Linked DNA regions of Homo sapiens: region 2 is linked to region 1. The links come from fine-mapping of genetic effects on gene expression. Tissue or cell type: whole blood. Region 1 holds a variant in brackets; the other region holds the start of a gene. All regions are shown on one strand. Distances are from middle to middle.

What was found. PIP is the estimated chance that this variant, and not a neighbour inherited with it, causes the effect.
Region 2: TNFSF9 starts here. The variant in region 1 is fine-mapped to the expression of TNFSF9 in whole blood (TOPMed, PIP above 0.99).

Annotation. Positions count from the first base shown.
Region 1 is chr19:6,550,716-6,553,472 of GRCh38, forward strand. No RefSeq gene overlaps it. Among named protein-coding and RNA genes, the nearest start is that of TNFSF9, 21 kb to the left of the region's middle. RefSeq lists an enhancer at 1,182-1,251. The variant C/T (reference allele first, on the strand shown) is at 1,272.
Region 2 is chr19:6,529,945-6,532,547 of GRCh38, forward strand. TNFSF9 (TNF superfamily member 9) reads left to right here and starts at 1,082. Exons shown (of 3, transcript NM_003811.4): 1 at 1,082-1,359. The coding sequence starts at 1,093. RefSeq lists silencers at 910-1,139, 1,280-1,349 and enhancers at 1,760-1,859, 2,461-2,603.

The sequences.
Region 1 (2,757 bases):
CGGGAGGCTGAGGCAGGAGAATCACTTGAATCTGGGAGGTGGAGGTTGCAGTGAGCCAAGATTGTGCCACTGCACTCCAGCCCAGGCGACAGAGCAAGACTCCCTCTCAAAAAGAAAAAAAAAAAAAAAGGCTTACGTAATACTGTTACAGAATCTTTAGGGTGTCACATTTCTGGTCGGAAATATCTGTGTCCCCTGGCACCTTTGCCAGAGTTCTTGTCTTGTGTCCAGGAAGAATGAGTTACACAGGGAAGTGGAGGGTGAACAGGATGAAGAGGAGTTTTATTGAGTGTTAGAACAGCTCAGAGAAGACCAAAGTGGGCAGCTCCTCTCTGTAGACAGTTCATTCCATTGAGTGCTCAGCTCTCAGCAGAGAGGAGACCCCAGAGAGGGTAGTTCCTCTCTGGTCCTCCTGATGGCTGCAGGTCTCAGCAGAGAGGAGGCCTTGGAGAGGGTGGCTTCTCTCTGCCCAGCAGGTCATCCCATCCTCACTGCAGCTTTCAGCAGAGAGTGTAGCTCCTTTCTGCAGCTGGTCGTCAGGTCATCTCCAGCTATTAGCACAGAGAGTGGCTTCTCTCTGCAGCTGGTCATCTGGACGTCTCTCTTTTTCTCTGCCCTGCTCTGGCTGAGCCTGGGGCTTTTATGGACCTCAGAGGGGATGCAGTGTGTGCCGACTGGTCCATTAACAGCCATGCATGGGCCTGGAAAAGGCATCACAAGTCCCCACTCTGGTCCACAGGTCTGGTGGCCCTCAGCCTTCAGGCCCTCCCTGGCCTGAAGGTGGGGTCTTAGCGAGGACTTGCTCCCTTCTGCCAGGAATCAGTCTGCCTCCTGCTGCCGTTCATGGCCCCAGGTTGGACCCTGACTTTGCTCCAAGATCAGAGCAGGCGCTGAGAGCAGGGAGAAACCAGGCAGTGGGAGCAGGTGCTTTGGAGCCTGCAAGGGCAGGGGGGCCTCCCTGGCCCCCCAAGAGCACAGGGAGGCTTGAATCTGCGGCCACAACTTGGGCGGCTGCAGAGGCCCAGGATGCAGCTTCAGGTGCTCCCCCTTGCAAGCTGGGGCGGGGATTCCTGATCCTTGCCGGGCCTGGGCTGGCGCCCAGGGCAGGGGCAATATCACCACGAACTGCCCCTGTTGCCCCGGCACTCAGGGGCAGCCTGTGGGGAGCTGATCCTGGCCCCAGCCTGGCCACGGGGAGTGGCAGGCTTGGTGGTCGCTCTGATGCGGGGTGGACCCCAAGAACACGGCTGGCAAGCCCTGCACAGAGCCTC[C/T]TCCTGATGCCTAGGAACCCTGAACCCTCTGCGGGGTGGGTGCAGTGGCTGCGCGGCTGGCTAGTCCCCAAAGAGGGCGCTGCTCCCTCTTCCTGCCCCCGCCCCCAAAGCACGGCCCCAGCTCCACATCCGGGCCCCTCTCTGCCCGACCGCGCTGCTCCAGCAGGGCGTGGGCTCCAGAGGGCTGTGGGCTGCGTGGCCGGGGAGCTGTCAGCCTCCTCCCTGGGCCCTCCCTGCAGCAGCCATGTGATGGCAGCAGCCAGACAGCCCACCACAGCCATCAATACCACACGAATTTTCACAATAAGCTGGACAAACTTTCCCTGGTGGAAAAATTAGTCTGTGGCCGGGTGTGGCTGGCCCTGGCTCTCCCAGGAGGTTTTCATGACGTAACCTGCCAATTTGATAAATCTCTGCCTCATAGAGTCACAAACGTTCTTCTCTAGATGAGAAGTTCTCCATGATTCCATAAATATAAATTTTAAAAAATTTAACCTGGGGCCGGGCGCGGTGGCTCATGCCTGTAATCCCAGCACTTTGGGAGGCGGAGGTGGGTGGATCACCTGAGGTCAGGAGTTCAAGACCAGCCTGGCCAACATGGTGAAACCCTTGTCTCTACTAAGAATACAAAAATTAGCTGGGCGTGGTGGTGTGTGCCTGTAATTCCAGCTACCCAGGAGGCTGAGGCAGGAGAATCGCTGGAACCTGGGATGCGGAGGTTGCAGTGAGCCAAGATCACGCCACTGCACTCCAGCCTGGGTGACAGAGCAAGACCCCGTCTCAAAAAACAAAACAAAACAAAACAAAAAAAACAAAAACTAACTTTAAGTTCAGGGGTACATGTGCAGGTTTGTTATATGGGTAAACCTGTGTCATGCGGGTTTGTTTTACAGGTTATTTCACCCAGGTGCTAAGCCTAGTATCCATTAGCTATTTTTCCTGATCCTCTTCCTCCCCCAACCCTCCACCGTCTGATAGGCCCCAGTGTGTGTTGTTCTCCTCTATGTGTCCATGTGTTCTTATCATTTAGCTCCCACTTATAAGTGAGAACATGCAGTATTTGTTTTTCTGATCCTGCGTTAGTTTTCTAGGGATAATGGCCTCTAGCTCCATCCATGTTCCTGCAAATGACATGATCTCGTTCTTTTTTATGGTGCATAGTATTCCGTGGTGTATATGTACCATATTTTCTTTATCCATTCTACCATTGATGGCCATTTAGGTTGGTTCCACGTCTTTGCTATTGAGAATATGCTGCAATGAATATATGCATGCACGTGTCTTTATAATAGAATGATTTATATTCCTTTGGGTTTACACCTAGCAGTGGGATTGCTGGACTGAATGGTAGTTCTGTGTTTAGGTCTTTGAGGAATCCTCACACTGTTTTCCACAATAGTGGAGCTAATTTACATTCCCACCAACAGTGTAAAAGCGTTCCTTTTCTTAGAAGACAATACCTTTTTTTGTTGTTGTTGTTGTTGAG
Region 2 (2,603 bases), 21 kb before region 1:
AGAGTGTCAGAGACAGAGAGACAGACACAGAGATAACAGAGCCAGAGATAGGGAGAGTCAGAGACAGAGAGAAAGAGACAGACAGACATAGATAAAAGAGCCAGAGACAGGGAGAGAGACACAGAGACAGAGACATAGAGACAGAGATAACAGAGCCAGAGACAGAGTCAGAGACAGAGACAGAGAGAGCCAGACACAGAGACAGAGAGAGAGAGTCACAGCCAGAGACAGCGACAGAGATAACAGAAGCAGAGAGAGGGAGAAAGATAACAGAGCCAGAGACAGTCAGAGACAGAGATAGAGAGACAGAGATAACAGAGCCAGAGACAGATACAGAGACAGAGATAACGGAGCCAGAGATAGGGAGAGAGAGTCAGAGACAGAGAGAGATATATAGACAGAGATAACAGAGCCAGACATGGGGAGAGAGAGTCAGAGGCAGAGAGAGAGAAGACAGATAGAGAGACAGAGCCAGTGATAACAGAGCCAGAGACAGGGAGAGAGAGTCAGAGAGAGATACAATGAGAGACAGAGATAACAGCCAGAGACAGAGTTAGACAGAGAGATACAGAGACAGAGATAACAGAGCCAGAGACAGGGAGAGAGAATTAGAGACAGAGATAGAGAGAGACAGAGACAGAGATAATACAGGCACAGAGGCACGCATAGACATAAATTGGCAGAGAGAGAGAAAGATCTCTTTCCACCCACTGCAGAGGCAATCAACAGAGACAGAGAAAGACGTTAACGGGGAGACACAGAGAGCAAAGGAGACTGAGTCAGCAAGAGACCCACAGAGATACCGGGAAAGAGCGGCAGAGAGGGAGAACCAGGGCGATGGAGAGACAGCAGGGAGAAAGGAACCTGGAGCCGAGCTTGGAAGGCCGGAAACGGAAAGGAGAGCGAAAAGCGGAGAGAGATCCGAGTGGAGAAAATTCCGCAGAGTCACGGGGACGAGGGGAAAGGCTCTGGGCTGGGAAGGGGCGTGGCCGCGGGCGGAGGGGCGTGGCCGCGGGCGGAGGGGCGTGGCCTCCTTTTGTAGCCAAGCAGCTATAAAAAGCGGCGCGCTGTGTCTTCCCGCAGTCTCTCGTCATGGAATACGCCTCTGACGCTTCACTGGACCCCGAAGCCCCGTGGCCTCCCGCGCCCCGCGCTCGCGCCTGCCGCGTACTGCCTTGGGCCCTGGTCGCGGGGCTGCTGCTGCTGCTGCTGCTCGCTGCCGCCTGCGCCGTCTTCCTCGCCTGCCCCTGGGCCGTGTCCGGGGCTCGCGCCTCGCCCGGCTCCGCGGCCAGCCCGAGACTCCGCGAGGGTCCCGAGCTTTCGCCCGACGATCCCGCCGGCCTCTTGGACCTGCGGCAGGTGAGACGTGCCCCGACCCTCGGTAGCTGGTCTCGCGGGAGACCCCTACCGCCCCTCTGGGACTCCCTTCTCCCTCCCGCACCCCCAGGGACACCTGTTCTACACTCCCGGCCGGGGAGAGGAGACCCACCGGGGCTCCCATTCTCCATCTAGCACCGAGGCCGGGGGGGCACACCTTTCATCCCGCACCCCTACGACACCTCATCTGTACCCCAGGCCGGGGGCGGGGAGGAGACCGCCCAACAGTTCTTTTTGGACCCCCCAAGGGTCTCCTTCTTCTAGTCCGGGGGGCACCCCTTTCATCCTGCGCCCGCTACGAGACCCTATCTGTATCCCGGGAGGGGGAGAGGAGACCCCCACAAGTTCTTTTTGGACCTCCAAGGGCTCTCCTTCTCCGTCTTGCACGGGAGGGCACCCCTTTCATTCCGCATCCCGAGACCCCATCAGCACCCCAGGCCAGGAGGAGGAGACCCCCACAGTCCTCAACCCCTCAGGGATACGTCTTCTGCACCCCGGGTCGGAGAAAGGCTGGCTTCCCTCCATGTGGCAGTGGGTGGGGGCACCCCTCTTCATTCCGCATTCCCAAGGCACCCCATCTGCACCCTGGACGGGGGACCCTCCGCGGTTCTCCAACCCTCGACGGCTTCCTTTCTCTATGTAGGACTTAGGACATTGAGGGCACCTCTTTTTACCCCGCACCCCCACAAGCTCTGCATCTCTGGGGGGAACCTTTTTTCCATCCCCGATCCGAGGGGGGCACTTCCTCTTTATCTGGGACCGCCAAGGAGACCCCCAGTTCCTTTGCTAACTCCCAAAGAGCCTTATCCCCAACATCTGAGGTACCCCTCTCCCTTTCAAGACCCCCAGGGGAATACCCCCAAGGGGGCTGGAAAGAAGAGGGATCGCTTTTCCCTCCTGAATTCTTGGAGATCTGTCCTTGGGGCAGGTTGAGCCACCAGCTTCGTGTGTGTGTGTGTGTGTGTGTGTGTGTGTGTTCGTGTTTGTGTGGGTGTTTGTGTTCGTGTGTGTGTGTTCGTGTGGGGGTGCGTATGTGTGTGTGTTCGTGGGTGTGTTTGTGTTCGTGTGGGTGTGTGTTCGTGTGGGTGTTTGTGTTTGTTCGTTCGTGTGGGTGTTTGTGTTCATGTGGGTGTGTTTGGATATTTGTGTTCGTGTGTGTCTGTGTGTGTTCGTGTGGGTGTTTGTGTGTGTTTGTGTTTGCGTTCGTGTGTGTGTTCGTGTTTGTT